Linked DNA regions of Homo sapiens: region 1 is linked to region 2. Evidence: fine-mapped expression QTL. A gene starts in region 2. The other region holds a variant in brackets. All regions are shown on one strand. Distances are between the middles of the regions.

Region 1 (8,331 bases), 120 kb after region 2:
ATGGAGGAAGGGAAGAATTTGGCATGAGGAAAGAAGGTTTAAGTTGTCTGAAACATGTGTGAGTTCACCCTGGATGAGCTGCCACAGCAATTGCGTCACATGTTGGGATGAGGAACTCTAACCGGAGAGATAGAAAAAAGTCCTTCCCCCTTCTGGGCAGGGCAGCCATCCCTTTTCGTTTCTTGGCCTTCAGAAGGCACCCGAGAGTGGCCCCGGCCAGCTGTCCTCAATTAACCGGGAGCTACTAGGAGTAGCTGAAAGACCGAAACAGGAAAAAGAAAAATAACTCAGTAAAAGGGAGAAAGGAATAGGACTCAGAAAAACAAAACCAAGGAAAAGGACTCAGGTTGCCCACCCAGCCGGGTGGTGGTGGTCAGATGCGTCACATGGAAACCTGTAGGTTTCACCAGAGAGTGGCCCTGGCTGGAAACTTGCAGTTGTCTCTATGTTTAGGCGCTGATCACGGAGGGTCCCAAGTTGGAAAGGAAAAAGAGAGAGAAAAAGGTTTCCCTGTATGTAAAAGGGGAAAGAAAAATAAATCCCAAACTTTGGGCCTACCTTGTCTCCAGGCTGGCTCGCCAAAATATATGTTACCAGTAGAAGGTGTTCAGGTTCTTGGCATCTCAAATGAAGAAGTTGACAAAATGCACAAATGAGGCAAGGAAAGCAAAAGCAGGGATTTATTGAGAATAAAAGTACACGCCACAGTGTGGGAACAGCCCAATCATAGAGGCTCAAGAGCCCGGCTTACAGAATTTTCTGGGGTTTTAATGCTCTAGAGGTTTCCCGTTGGTCACTTGGTGAATATTCTATGTAAATGAAGTGAATAAAGTGAAGTCACAGAGTCATTTACTCAGAATGTGCCCTACTGTAAATGGAGAGGATGTTAGTTGGTGTGTGATCTATGTAAATGGAGAGGATGAAAGTGAAGTTACAAAGTGGAAATGGTATGAATGGAGAGGATGAAGGGAATTTACAAAACCATTCACATTCCTGTCATTGCTAAGGTGCTTTCATTTGATTTAGTAAAGTCAGTGTGGATTGGCTTTATGTTCCCTGCCTCCAGGCCCTAGTCTCCTGCCTCAGTAGAGCCCTCAAATCTCTCAGGGTGGGTCTACTCAGGCTAAGTTTGTCTGAAAACTATTTCTCAAGCTGATTTTTTGGTTGTTTTTGAAAACTCATTGAGTTATTTATTTTATTTATTTATATATTTATTTTTTGAGACACAGTCTTGCTCTGTCACCCAGGCTGGAGTGCAGTGGCACAATCTCGGCTCATTGCAACCTCCACCTCCTGGGTTTAAGCAATTCTCCTGCCTCAGCCTCCCGAGTAGCTGGAATTACAGATCCCCACCACCATGCCTGGCTAATTTTTGTATTTTTAGTAGAGACAGGGTTTTACCATGTTGGCCAGGCTGGTCTCGAACTTCTGATCTCAGGTGATCCACCTGCCTTGGCCTCCAAAAGTGCTGGGATTACAGGCATGAGCCACCATGCCTGGCCGAGTTATTTATTTTAGAATAGGATAAATGACTCCTGCTTTGCAGATAAATATCAGAGCAGTAATCGCACACAGCCTGAAGCTGCCATATTTTATTCTGACCTACTTCATAATGACTCTTAATTGCTCTGAAAAAAATATTCTTCCTTATTTATTCTGAACTGGCTTTTAGGGGTTGCATTTGGACAGGGGAAGAGTAGATCTTATCATTCAGGCCCTGCCAGACAGCAATTCCTGTTTCTGAGAGCACTTACCTTCTCCAGTCTGGCTTGCAACTCAGCCAAGCTAGATCTAAGGAGCTTCCTTTCCTAGATGAGCTTCCTTCTCCTAGGTCTTTGCTTTTATGTCTCACCCACTAGTCTCTATGTTTGTATCTTAATGCCTCTTTAAGTATCTCACATCACCTTACAAAACGATTAGTGCATTATAGATTCAACAAATACTTAACTTTTCTGAAAATCCAGTTACTTGTTTTATGAGCCTCCAATTGCAAACTGAAATTATCTTCTCCATTATTGCTAATGACAGTGAAGAATTTTCCATTCAGCATCAAAGAGTCAAAAAATACCTAAAAACATTTTTCCTTGCATATAGCATATTGACAACATTGTCTCTCACACCTGTTGAATGTTCTTCCTCTGTGCCTAGTACTATGCTACCCTTGAATGCGTGTCTTACTTTTTATAATAACCTGTGAGATAGAGGTTTTTTAAATTGTCATTTGTGACACAGAAAAAGCAATTTAAGATACTCATCTACATGCAGCTAGTAAATGAGAGAAGCAGGATCTGAACCCAGCTCAGATTCCAAAGCCTAAGTATTTTCTACTACACCACTCTCCAACAGACAGGAGCTAAAGGCCACTTAATTCCTTTCTTTCCAGTCTGTCACTCTCAATAGTGCCTTGGCTCTGCTTACTTGGAAGCTCTTTCTCCCCTAGAATTTTGAGGAGAAAATGTAAGGACAATTGTTTTTTAATTCTAAATAATTCTCTTGTCACTGTCACAGCAGCAGTCTTGGTGTTCAGAAGCTGTGGTAAGACCAGTGGACTTAACATCAAGACAGGAGTTTGAGCATCTTATGTAACATGACATTGACCCTTTTGTATAGTCTAAAAAGTTATTTATTTTTTCTTTCTGGGGAAAAGTTTGATGTCTTCCTCAAAGAGTCTGACCATCTAGGTGAGCATCAAGGTGAAATATTTTACCTGCTTTCCTGATGTATGAATCCATAACAATGGGATATTTGAAGAATTTTTATGAGATTATGTTGAGGCTTGGCTGATCTTCCTTTGTGTTCCAGCTACTGTGTGGAAGGGCCCGGTTTTGTCTTTGTTCTGCAAGAAGGAAAGCAAACACAAGAAGCCTAGCCTGGGAGATAGAAACACCCATGGGAGGATGGAAATCTGTGACCCCTCCTCCCTCACCAACACCACATCCAATCAGCCACGAGGCCCCCCTGCTTCCCCAAATCCCCATTGCCATTACATTCACCATTATCCTTTGCTGGGAATGTTGCAACAGCTCCTGATTTATTGCCCACTTTCCACCCTTATCTTCGTCAGCCTCCAGCATCATTCCTAAACAGCAGCCAGTGTGATATTTAAAAAATAACAAATCTAAATATAAGACTCTTCTGGTTAAAAACCTTCAAGGCTTCCCATTACTCTTCAAATCGTGGCAAACATTTTTAAGCAGAGCTTTAAGGCAGTTCGTAGTCTGGTCCCTGCCTGCCTCCCTAGCCTCATCTTGCTCCATTTCTCCTTTTTTCCACCCTACCCTACAATCACGTTAACAGATTTTTCTCTTCCACAAACGTGCCAAGCTATTCCCTGCATCTGGAATGCTCTCCCTGCTGCCACTCTCCTGGATAACAACTTTTGTCTTTCAGATCTTAGCTTACATGGATGTGACTGCCTCATAGAGAC[T/C]TTCTCAACTCTCCAAACTTGGTTAGAGATCCCTCTACTAAACCATTGTAGAAACCTGTGTCTCTTCTTCATAATCTCATTTTAACTCACGTTGTTATTTCTGTGGTTGTCTATTTGATGGTTCAGGGCCACGCCTGGCCTGTTCACTCCCATGTCCCCAGGAGCCAGCACCGCATCTGGCACCTAGAAGGTGCTCAGCAAGTCTTTGGAAGAGGAATGAATGAGCCAGGACTTGCGTGAGGAAGGACCTGGCTTCCAGCTGTGGTTCTGCCACTTACTAAGCTGTGTAATCTTAGGAAGGTCGTTTAACTTCTCTGGACCTCAGTTTCTTCATCTGTAAAACAGGAATGATGATTTTCATGTGCGTCCATGTAAAGAGACCACCAAACAGGCTTTGTGTGAGCAATAAAGCTTTTAATCACCTGGGTGCACGCGGGCTGAGTCCGAAAAGAGAGTCAGCAAAGGCAGATAGGGGTGGGGCCGTTTTATAAGATTTGGGTAGGTAAAGGAAAATTACAGTCAAAGGGGGTTGTTCTCTGGCGGGCAGGAGTGGGGGTCACAAGGTACTCAGTGGGGGAGTTTTTGAGCCAGGATGAGCCAGGAGAAGGAATTTCACAAGACAATGTCATCAGTTAAGGCAGGAACAGGCCATTTTCACTTCTTTTGTGGTGGAATGTCATCAGTTAAGGCAGGAACTGGCCATCTGGATGTGTACATGCAAGTCACAGGGGACATGATGGCTCAGCTTGGGCTCAGAGGCCTGACATTCCTGTCTTCTTATATTAATAAGAAAAATAAAGCGAAATAGTGGTAAAGTGTTGGGATGGCGAAAATTTTTGGGGATGGTATGGAGAGATAATGGGCGATGTTTCTCAGGGCTGCTTTGAGCGGGATTAGGGGCAGCTTGGGAACCTAGAGTGGAAGAGATTAAGGTGAAGGAAGATTCTGTGGTAAGGGGTGATATTGTGGGGTTGTTAGAAGAAACATTTGTCATTTAGAATTATTAGTGATGGCCTGGATACAGTTTTGTATAAATTAAAAACTAAACGGAATAAGAGAAGAAGAAAAACAGGTATTAAAGGACTAAGAATTGGGAGGACCCAGGACATCTAATTAGAGAGTGCCTAAGGAGGTTCAGCATAGCCTTGCCAGTAAAGATTATTTATTCACTTTAAGAGTTAAGAGTGGTGGTTTGGGGATAGCACCAGGAGATATCAGCTGTGATGGCTTGGAGAAACAGTGTAAACTGGCAGTGTAAACAAGAGCAGGGCATGTATGAGTAGTTGAGAATGGTGAATAGGAGTATGACTAGACAGAAGATAGTAGGGATGACAAGTTTTTTGGGGGCACAGTCTAAGTTGGTCTGGTGTCTGGAATGAGACTGGGGCCTAATAAAAAGGAGCATCTATACAGGAGCTCAAATGGGCTGTACCCTGTAGCATTCTGAGGACAGGTCTGACCTCTGAGAAGGGAAAGTGGTACAAGTATTGTCCAGTCCTTTTTAAGTTGGTGGCTGAGCTTGGTGAGGTGTGTTTTTAAGAGACCTTTAGTCTGTTCTACTTTTCCTGAAGACGGAGGACTGTAAGGGATATAAAGGTTTCACTGAATACTAAGAGCCTGAAAAACTGCTTGGCTGATTTGAGTAATAAAGGCTGGTCTGTTATCAGACTGTATAGGGGTGGGAAGGCTAAACTGAGGAATTATGTCTGATAGAAGGGAAGAAATGACTGTGCTGGCCTTCTCAGACCCTGTAGGAAAGGCCTCTACCTATCCAGTGAAACTGTCTACCTAGACTAAGAGGTATTTTAGTTATCTGACTCAGGGCATGTTGAGTAAAGCTAATTTGCCAGTCGTGGGTGGGGGCAAATCCTCGAGCTTGATGTGTAGGGAAGGGAGGGGGCCTGAATAATCCCTGAGGAGTAGTAGAACAGCAGATGGAACACTGAGAAGTTATTTCCTTGAGGACAGATTTCCACGATGGAAAGGAAATGAGAGGTTCTAAGAGGCGGGCTAGTGGCTTGTACTATAGCATAGCCTGCCTTTGCTGGTGTGTGGTGATTATGCCTGGTGGAACCGCCATCAATAAATCAAGCGTGATCAGGATGAGGAACAGGAAAGAAGGAAATATGAGGAAATGGGGTGAATGTTAGGTGGATCAAAGAGATACAGTCATGTGGGTCAGGTGTGGTATCAGGAATAATGTGGGAGGCCGGATTGAAGTCTGGGCCAGGAACAATGGTAATTTTGGGACTTAACAAAGAGTGAGTACAGCTGAAGGATCCAGGGAGCAGAAAGTATATGCGTCAGGTATGAGGAAGAAAATAGATTTTGGAAGTTATAAGAAATGTAGAGAATAAGTTGAGCATAGTTTGTGATTTTGAGGGCCTCTAAAAGTATTAGGGCAGCAGCAGCCGCTGCACGGAGACATGAGGGCTAGGCTAAAACAGTAAGGTCAAGTTGTTTGCACAGAAAGGCTACAGGGTGCGGTCCTGGCTCTTGTGTAAGAATTCTGACCACACTAACCATGCCTAGGAAGGAAAGGAGTTGTTGTTTTGTAAGGGATTGAGGTTTGGGAGATTAATCGGACACGATCAGCAGGGAGAGCACGTGTGTTTTTATGAGAATTATGCCGAGATAGGTAACAGATGAGGATGAAATTTGGGCTTGACTGAAGTAATGGGGGCTGTCTGTGAAGCCTTGCGGCAGTACAGCCCACGTAATTTGCTGAGCCTAATGGGTGTCAGGGTCAGTCCAAGTGAAAGCGAAGAGAGGATGGGATGACGGGTGCAAAGGAATAGTAAATAAAGCATGTTTGAGATCCAGAACAGAATAATGGATTGTGGAGGGAGGTATTGAGGATAGGAGAGTATATGGGTTTGGCACCATGGGGTGGATAGGCAAAACAATTTGGTTGATAAGGCACAGATCCTGAACTAACTTGTCAGGTTTGTCTGGTTTTAGGACAGGTAAAATGGGGGAATTGTAAGGAGAGTTTATAGGCTTTAAAAGGCCATGCTATAGCAGGCGAGTGATAGCAGGCTTTAATCCTTTCAAAGCATGCTATGGGATGGGATATTGGCATTGAGCGGGGTAAGGGTGATTAGGTTTTACTGAGATGGTAAGGGGTGCATGATCGGTCGCCAAGGAGGGAGTAGAGGTATCTTATACTTGTGGGTTAAGGTGGGGGAATACAAGAAGAGGACGCAAAGGAGGCTTTGGATTGGGAAGAAGGGTGGCAATGAGATGTAGCTGTAATCCAGGAATAGTCAGGGAAGCAGATAATTTAGTTAAAGTGTCTCGGCCTAATAAGGGAACTGGGCAGGTGGGGATAACTAAAAAGGAGTGCTTAAAAGAGTATTGTCTAAGTTAGCACCAGAGTTGGGGAGTTTTAAGAGGTTTAGAAGCTTGGCTGTCAATACCCACAACAGTTATGGAGGCAACGGAAACAGGCCCTTGAAAAGAAGGTAATGTGGAGTGGGTAGCCTCCGTATTGATTAAGAAGGGGACGGACTTACCCTCCACTGTGAGAGTTACCTAAAGCTCGGCGTCCGTGATGGTCTACGGGGCTTCCGAGGCGATCGGGCAGTGTCAGTCTTTAGCCGCTAAGCCGAGAAGGAGTCAGAGAGCCTTGGGCCAGAGTTCCACGGGCTCTGTGAGTGGCTGCCAGGTGAGTTGAACAGTCCGATTTCCAGTGGGGTCCTGCACAGATGGGACACGGCTTAGGAGGAATCCTGGGCTGCAGGCATTCCTTGGCTTGGTGGTCAGATTTCTGGCACTTGTAGCGAGCTCCTGGGGAGGAGGTTCTGGAGGAACGCCTGGCCGCTGCGGTTCAGGCGTTTGGAAGTTCTTGTGTGCTGGAGATGTGGCTGGGGTTTGTCTCACAGTGGAGACAAGGAATTGCAACTTTTTTCTATTGTTGTACACCTTGAAGGCGAGGTTAATTAAATCCTGGTGTGGGGTTTGAGGGCCAGAATTTAATTTTTGGAGTTTTATTTAATGTCGGGAGCAGATTGGGTAATAAAATGTATATTGAGAATAGGACGGCCTTTTGACCTTTTAGGGTGTAGGGCTGTAAAGCGTCTCAGGGTTGCTGCCGAACGAGCCATGAACTGGGCTGGGTTTTTTATATTTGATGAAAAAGAGCCTAAATGTTATCTGATTTGGGATAAAGAAAAAGGAGCATTAAACCTTGACTATGCCTTTAGCTCTAGTCACCTTTTTAAGAGCAAATTGCTGGGCAGGTAGGGGAGGGCTAGTCACGGAATGAAACTAAGCCAGACCAACTAAGCCAGAGCGGGTGTGAGGAGGGGAGGTGATAAAAGGATTATAGGGTGGAGGAGCGGAGGCTGAGGAAGAATTGGGATCTAGCTCGGCCTGGCGAGGAGCAGCCTGGGGAGGAGGGGAGAGGTCAGATGGGTCTGTAGAAAAGGAAGATTAGAAAGACTCAGTGACGCTTGGGGTTGGGACTGAGGGGACAGGTGGGAGGGAAAGAAGGAAGATTTGGGATGAGTTGCATTGGGAACAGAGACTAGAGAGGGACCGACGTGTAAAAGAATGCCTGGATGTCAGGCACCTCAGACCATTTGCCCATTTTATGACAAGAATTATTTAGATCTTGTAGGATGGAAAAATTGAAAGTGCCATTTTCTGGCTATTTGGAACTACTGTCGAGTTTGTATTGGGGTCAAGCGGCATTGCAGAAGAAAATAAGATGCTTAGATTTTAGGTCAGGTGAGAGTTGAAGAGGTTTTAAGTTCTTAAGAACACAGGCTAAGGGAGAAGAAGGAGGAATGGAAGGTGGAAGCTTGCCCATAGTAAAGGAGGCAAGCCCAGAGAAAACAGTAGAGACACGGAGAAGGGGTGGGGAGTTCTTGCCCTCCAGAAAAGCAGAGAAGGGGTTGGGG
Region 2 (8,331 bases):
TGGGGTAATAAAATAGTCTGTACCTTGATTGTGGTAGCGGTTACATGAATCTACACATGAAAAAATGCATAGAAGTACACACATAGAAATACAAATTTTACATGTGCATGTAAAACTGGTGAAATCTGAATATGCTCTGTGGACTGTACCAATGTCAATTTCCTGGTTCTGCTACTGTACTATGGTTATGTAAGATGTTACCAATGGGGGAAACTGGGTGAAGGGTACACAGGACCTCTCTACTATTTTTGCAACTTCCTATGAAGCTATGATCATTTCAAAACGAAAAGTTAAAAGTAAACAGCAGACATTTTACTTAAAAACAAAATGAAAAAATAGAGGTATATAGCTGCAATATTGGCCAGTGAGGTCTCAAACACAGGTTTAAACACACACCATAGAACGACAGTTTTTGAAAACTTAAATCTAATTCTTCAGTATCTTAACAGGGATACATTTCCAACACCTTAGAGCTACTCTCCTACTCTCTCCTAAAAGATGGGGGGAAAATGCCTGATGTGTGAGCCCCTTTAGGAGTCCAGGAGTCCTGTCCTGAGTGTCCAAAATGAATATACCCTAAGGTTACACAAGGCCTGGCCGTGAGAGCAGAGCCAAGGGCCTCACAAGTTAAAGTAGAACTCAGCTTGATGCCAACACATAAACCAAGAGCAGGAGTGGCTTCCTTCCAGCAAAAGTAGAGGACTGCCCTACCCACAATGGCCAAGATTTACATTGTACCTCTCCTTCAAGACAAAACAAAGCCAAGCCAACAAAATTAACTTTAAAAAAATCACTAGGCAAACAAAAAAACAAAACAAAACATAAAACCACAACAACCTCAGACTATTTCCAACAAACCTTGTAATCAAATATCTCCCTTTACTTGACCTCCACACTACCCCTTGCTTTTCGAGGATTTTATTACCTACTAAATTCTGAGTCATAAGAACCTGCCAAAATTAATGAAAAATAGGAGAAAAATTATTCAAAACACTGCAGAATTTTCTGACCTGAGCTTCCTTATGCATTTAAAATGCAGATAGCCACACACCGCACCCCCCCCCCAACCCCGCCAAAAAGAAAAGAAAATAGAAAAGGTTACTTTGGGGGAATTTTATATATCAGAAATATTAGCAGGTCCTATAAAGTTACTTCTTTTTAATTTATTGGCCTGAAAAATCAAACTTTTACAATTTTCACTAGCAATTCCCATTTCATGTCATTAATTATTTTTTTCAAAAGTCTTTGTTTTATCATTTTCAAAGCATTTTCACAAATTACTATGAAGAAATGCAGCACTGATACCTAGAGGCTATACCTTTCAACAGAACTCTCACCAGCCAGACTGCTCATTTCAATTAGTTCAGCCATCTTTTCCCTAGGCCCTGGGTCCACACTTTTCCTTAGGGGTAGACATCAGAAAAGCTGAGCTCTACCCACAACAGCCTCTAGACTAACTGGCCCAGGGCAGACACTCTCAAGTCTGATCAGCGGAGTGCTTTCCCATAAAATCACTCACATTTCTGCATTCATGTGTTTTTCTTAACGACAGCACTTTAAAATCTCATTTAAACTGAAAATCCTCCATTAGCCTCCGTGAAAAGATGTATTTTTAAATGCTTTGATCTCCACATGCCCTTTGGAAAATTAGTATGCTACATCCTCCATCATCTGCAAAGAACCTGAAAGACCAAGACTTCTGTGCATTTTAAAAAGAAGGGGGAGGGAAAGGGGCGTTACAGGTACAGCACCTTCTCTCCTATCCACCTGCAGGTTTACAAAGGTTTCCTTATTTATCTTGAAAAATGCATCACAGAAAAACAAAAGTGCACTCCAAGAACTAAACATCCTCATCCCTCCCCCCAACCCCCACCACCATCATAAGGAAAAGTAGAGCCTGTATAAAGCCTTCTACCTATGTCCTACCCTTTTCATTCTGGTCGAATCGGTGTTTTCCTTCATTCTAGTCAAATCAGTGCTTTTCCACCCTTTACTAACAGTTCAAAGTATATTAAACTACTGTTCCCACATTATTCTCATAAAGAGCCTTCAAAGTAGATACACACTATAAGGCTCAGAGCACCTTACTAGGAAGTAAATGTCAGTTGCTCTAGATTCTTTAAGACCTTGCAATCTAGAGAGCTCCTTAATCGTTAACCTGGGTCTGACTTCCACAGCTGCCCGGGCCCAGGAGTGGTATGCAGCCAGGGGAAATCTTAGCCAGTTTGGCAGTGACCCATAGGCCAGTTTTGGAAGCAGGGAGCCATGATTGTTTAATATTTCAAGCCTTGACTTTTTGCTTCCCGAAAAGGAAGGAAATTTTCTGGAACTGTAGCTATTAATAGCCCTCTATTCTGGTTTAATTCGTTTATGGTGAGCAGGTTAGCACGTTACTGCTTTGGTTAGCCGAAAGCATCTTCGAGGTATCACAACTGGCTCTCGAGACCACGTACCCCACCACCACCAAGGCCTTCTATAAGCAGTACAAAAACTCAGTTCTCATAACATGCCTCAGGAGAAGAAAATGGGAAACCAAGGCCTCACAGAGAAAGGGAGCTGAGGGACCATGGGGACAAAATGTTGGGTCCAAACCGCATCGTCTCAGGAGGCCGCACGCTCAGGGCCCACCTCTGAAACCCCAGTCCAGGTGATCCACACGCTAGCCCGGCCAAAAGGTATTTGCCACGCGGAGACAGGAAACCAACACCGAAGCCAAAAAGGCAAAAATCTTCGAACAAAAATGGAAAAGGAAAGTCTTCCTAGTCATCAGTAAAGATAGGAAGAGTAGGGTGGGCGAGGCGCGGGAGCTTTGCGCAGATACCCGGGATTCTCGGCCTGGGGCTCTGAGGGGGGAAACTTGGACACGTCGCCGCGAGCGCAGTCCAGGTAGCGGAGGCCCTAGAGGTGCGCGCCAGGGCTCGTCTGCTCTGCCGCCGCGTCCTCCAGCCCGGCCGCCTATGGGGCACGCTCGGTCCCTGTCCCGGCACTAGGCCACCGTTCCGCTCGGCTGTCATCGGCCAACGTACCACTCTCCCTCCTGCCACAAATGTCACATTCCAAGAAAAAACAGTTCCATTTGGAAAGTTTAAATTTTCTCCCCGCGAAAGCAGATTATTGTAAAGGCAGCCCTAACAGGCAAGCGGGAGCTGGATGTAACTCTCCAGTTTGTCAAAGAAACTTGTCTGGGGAGAGAACAAAGAAGGAGCAGCAGCTAACGCGATCCGAGCGTCTGGGGCTGGGGTGCGACCCTTTCGTCGCCCCCACCCGCCAGAGCCGGGTCTGGCCGGCGGGCAGAAAGGGTCCAGTCCACAGCGCCAGAGCCCGTCGGGCGGGCCGGTGCGCGCGCCTTTGTCTCGCGCCGGGGAAAGCTGCACCGGACACCCCCTTCCGTCCCCTCCCTCGCCGCGAGACCCGCGCGCGGGCGCGGGCGCGCCTCGGAGTGTCTGGCCATATGGCTGCGCCCCTCAGGAAAGGCCAGCCCCGCGTCGGGCGCGCAGCACCCCGGGGCCCAAACCCCGGGGCCACAACTTCAGTCAACGTGGGTCGCGGGGCGGCAAGACGCTGAGGCCCGGCCCGCAGGCAACTGGACCTGGAGCGGGGCAAGGGAACCCGCTTAAAAACAACAATCTGGGATCTCAGCCCCGGGCCCCCAGAAGCTGCCCCCTTCCGTGAGCAGCAGGGGCCCGGGGAGCCCGGGGCGACTGGGTTCTTCGCGTGGGAGACTCGGAGACGCCCTCCCGGCACCTCGAGTGGGGGCTGGTTACCTTTCACCGCAGGCTCACAAGTTCCCCGGCGCAACTTTGCCCTCCACATGAGGCGATCATGGCTAGTTCAGTCCCTCGGCTGGGGAAGACGGCTGCCGGGCAGCGCGGGGAAGTGGCGCCGGACAATCAACCCCATTCACACAGGGCTTCACCTCCAGCCCCAAACCCGACAACCGCTGCTGGGTCCTAGAGCTTCTCGCGCGCTCCCGCCGCCGTCCGCGCTCCCCGCTCCCCGCGCGCGGGCCGGGGAGGGTCGCCCGGGCTCGTCACTAGAACCCTACACTCCACCCCCGCCGTGGCGCCCGGCCGCTGGGCCCTAGAGCCCGTCTGCAGACACCCGCCGCCCCTCCCCGGGCCGCGAGACTGCCAGGCTGAAATTGCCCAGAGCTCAAGCTGACGTGTCTCCCTGAGACTTAGGAGGGCGACAGCATCCCTTCCTTTGTCCCCTGCCGGGTTTTGATTAATTTCAGACTCACCAGTTCTCCCTCCACTTTGTCTTCCTTCCCCACCAGCCCAATGCCGGCCAAAATTCTGTTTCCGGATCTGCCCAAAAGTCTAGATTTGCTTAGGTTGGTTTTTTTTCTTCTTAAGTGGAATTTCCAGGTAGAAAGTGGCCACACTTTTCTCAGCATTCCCCAGGCCCCAGTGCTTCCATCACGCACTTGAGATTGGGCGATAAGCTGCTACTATGTGCTCCGTTGACAAACAGAAGGGCCAAAACAGACCTGACAGCCTCGGATATTAAATGTGTTCGCAGAACCGTACATCCTCTGGCCATAAATCCCCAGGCTGTTATCTGCCTGAGTAGAGGTAAAGAAAGTAAGCGACTCTGGGAAAATGTTGCCCCACCTCTTAAAATCAGGCTGTGCTGAGAACTACTCATCCACCTCATTATATTGGTTTATACTGGCGGCTCTCTGGAGCCCTAATCTGGGGTGCCCGAGCCTGCCCCATAGCACTTCTGCCTGGCTTTTTCCGGGCAGCTCTACTGCTTGGAGAAGAGAAAGCTAGGTAACTGTACAGTTGCTGCCCAGGATGTTAGTGGGAGAGTTAGCGCACACCAAGCCTCTCTTATCTGGTGCTCCCTGCCTCTGTTTACCTGCTATCTAGGTCCGGCCTTCAGGGACTCCTCCCTGGATTGTGGCAGTTCCCTAACTAGACTGCCAGCAGTTTTACCTCTCATCAGTTCTGGTGGGTTGCATGTCCTGATTCTGATTCCCCTGATGGGCCCTCCTACTGAGTAAACTCTGCTCTCAAGATAAAGCCCAAATGTAATCATTTAACAATTATTTATGAAATGCCTACTCCATTTAAAGTCATCTACCCTGGTACACACAAAAGAAACTTAGCACACAAAAGAAACTTAGAGCAGCTGACCAGCCCTTCAAGGATCTGTTATCTGTCTAAGAAGACAAGATGTGTGAACAGAAAACAGGCAAGCAACAAAGCAGGAGATCCAAGTACTGCAGATGCCTGGGAAGGGCGGAGAGAGGCACTGACTACACAGAAGGAAAAGCCTGGGAGGGTGGTGGAGTTCAGACACAGCAGAAAGAGGAAAAGGCAGCACTGGGCAAGCAGAGGCAAAAGCCAAGAGGGAGATGACAAGGTCTGGGTGCTTGGGAAGAAGGCATAGAGGAAAGCGTTTTTACCAGAAACGAGGAGAAAACAAGGGAAGGCAGAATAACAACGTCACAAAAATGTAGGCCTGGAAAGAATCTAAGAAAGTGTCAACTAAACCTTTCACTTGCCGGATGAAGAAGCTCAGGCATAGCTGTTGAATGACTTGTCCAATGTTACAGAACAAGTTTAGTAGCAAAGCCAGGTATAGAAACAACCTCTGCCTCAATGTGCCTTGTATTACACATTGTGAACCCTGAATCGCAAATTAGGAGCTGAAGTGGTTATCTTATGGACAGTGAAGGGACCACTGATTCACCTAACATTTGCGCGAATTTAATACAAATTGGGGAAGAAGTGATGGATAGAAAAAGAAGAAAGGAAACTAATCTTTACTAATTGCCCACTCCTAGATACCATCCTATAGTCTAGGAAGCAGCAAAATTTCCAAGTTACAACCATCAAGTTTAGAACAAAACAGGCATGAGCTGAGTTGCAGCTCCACCATTCAGTATCTGTGTGACGCTGAGCAAGTTGCCTAACTTCTCTAAACCTCAGTATCCTTTTTGGCAAGATGAAGAAAATAGCATCTCACAGAGTGGTTGTGAAGACTGAATAAAATAACAAATGTAAAATACTCAGCACAATGCATGTAGTATTCAATATACATTTGCTATTATTATTTCAAGAGACTATCTAGGATAGTTGCAGGAAGCAATGATAGGTGAGGTTGACAGAGGTGATAAAAAGGAAATGAGAGATACCATATCTTTGGAGATACCAGATGTCATAAAGAAAGGTATCAAATCTTTGAAGCAAGATTTTATTCTTCTCATTGACTCGTTGTTTATCCTGGGGAAAAGGACAAAGTAATCAAGTTAACCTAGGCTTTGAGCCCAGTCATAGGAAGAATAGATCTTGCAGTCTTAGAAGAATGGATCATTAGACCAATGACAGATGAAGCACAGTTGAGAAGAGGAAACGGTTTGAGAAAGATGCTGAGTGACTTACTATCCTCTGGGCAAGAGGAAACAAGGAACAAGGGACTGGGTGAGAAGTGGAGGACAGAGGTGTAGAGAAAAGGAGAGATGAAGCTTTGAAGATCAGTTCATTAACAGAATGTCCACAACTGGAAAACAGGGAAAGAAGGAGGGAGAAGAGGAAGAATCTGGAGAAGTAGAAGAGCTGGGAAAAGGTAAAGGCATGGAAGCCAGAGGAAGTTTTAAGAAGTGGGTCCTTCTATCAAATGCTACAGATTCTTAGACCTGCAATGAAGTGCTAGGCACAGCTTGTGGGTTCAAGGATCTTCTGATTCAATCAGGTGGACCTAGCCTAGACTCCTCAAATTAATACCCAGTAATCAGATACATGGAAGCACAGGCAGAAAACACTGCTGGAGACCAATGTTTCCCTCCTGTGCCTTAATTTCCTTATCTGTGAATAAGCTCTACATCAAATGCAGAAAACAATCTTTTCAGGCCTTAACTTAGTTCCTGAATCTATTGTTCAGGAACTAAGGCCTGCAAAAAAAGACTCTGAATTTCACTAGCAAGAAGTTATCAATAACATCTTTCAGTAAGCACACTTGGCTGGAGATTCTGATGTCTGGTTTGTGTCTAATGGAAACAAAGTATGTTTACAATAAAAATTGAACACACCTTCACTAACAGCAAGGTAGTGAACCAGTCCACATCTGTGCCTTCTTTAGATCTATGCACTCATCCTAAAGGTCAGCATCCTTTCTAAAGTGACCCAAGTTGTCATTTACTCATTCCTAAGAAAGCTAAGAAGATGATGGGCCAATTTTAGTGCTCTTTGGGGCAGCCCAGAGAGCAGTCTTTCACTCAAAACAGGACGAGTACCAGGATGTTCCAGTGATACCAAGCTGTTCCCAACAAGCATAGAGGCGGGAAGAATGTTGAAGTAACAGAGGCATCTGGATAGAGGAGAATGAGCAGGGCCTTTACAGTAAGACCTGCTTCTAGTCCATGTTCTATCTATTTCTAGACACGGAGAGCCTCAGCTTCCTCCTCTATAAAATAATAACATTTGCCTCATAAACTTATTGCAAGGGTTAAATGAGATAATACAGGTCAAGTGCTGGGCACATCTAGGAATTCAGTAAAAGTTAGAAACCCTCCTCTTCTCCAGTAATTTGAAATACCAAGGAATTTAAATACTCTATTAAAATGCAAATGTCTTTCTCCTCTCACTTTTCTCAGCACCCCTTCTTGACAAACATTTAAAGTCTTTACCAGCTAATACTTTCACTGAATGGGCCCTAAGAATGGGCTTGGGCTTGCAAAGACAGAGAAGCCAAACAGCAAAAGAAGAGTGGATGAACATGACTACGTAAGGAACAGCTACTACACACAGCCTCACCTGGGACCATCGCTACAACTGGTAGTTCTCCATTAATGACTGTTGAATGAACAAACCAATGATTTGATGCACCCAGGCTGCTTTGATCAAAATGCTTGTTTTGCTCCTAGAACAAGTAAGGATATTTTTTAAGTTCAATTTCAAGCACTTTCTGAAGTGTAACTTATGAAACCAAAGCATGTAAAAATTTAAACTCCTCATGTTCCACCTCCAAATTTCTGAATCTCTAAAGGTGCAGTCCTAGAATCCACTCGAAATGACTCCTAGCACATTGAGGTTTCCAGCTGGCTCACTGGGGTTAGTCAGTGCTCCTGCAATTCACTTTCAGAAGTATTTACTACATCAGAGTGTAGTATGCTAAAGATAAAAAATGATGGTGAACACACTAGAGATTAGACACAAAGCATTATGGGAGCATAGAGGAATGATGCACAGGAAAAAAACGGGCAAGTTCCAAGAAATCCAGGTGCTGAGAGGAGGATATTTCGAGCAAAGGCATGGACACAAGGAAGGAAAGCATACGCTGCCATGCTTCTAAACACCTTTTCTTTTAATTTCTTCTTTTTAT

The links. PIP is the estimated chance that this variant, and not a neighbour inherited with it, causes the effect.
Region 1: its variant is fine-mapped to the expression of AMOTL1 in whole blood (TOPMed, PIP above 0.99).

What each region holds. Positions count from the first base shown.
Region 1 is chr11:94,642,765-94,651,095 of GRCh38, reverse strand. The region is part of intron 4 of PIWIL4-AS1 (PIWIL4 antisense RNA 1); the gene reads left to right. LINC02700 (long intergenic non-protein coding RNA 2700) reads right to left here. Exons shown (of 6, transcript NR_187352.1): 2 at 6,943-7,126; 3 at 3,518-3,761; 4 at 2,708-2,836; 5 at 559-622. Among named protein-coding and RNA genes, the nearest start is that of LINC02700, 8.9 kb to the right of the region's middle. RefSeq lists enhancers at 748-1,323, 3,743-4,476. The variant T/C (reference allele first, on the strand shown) is at 3,428.
Region 2 is chr11:94,763,994-94,772,324 of GRCh38, reverse strand. AMOTL1 (angiomotin like 1) reads right to left here and starts at 3,969. Exons shown (of 13, transcript NM_130847.3): 1 at 3,765-3,969. The coding sequence starts at 3,813.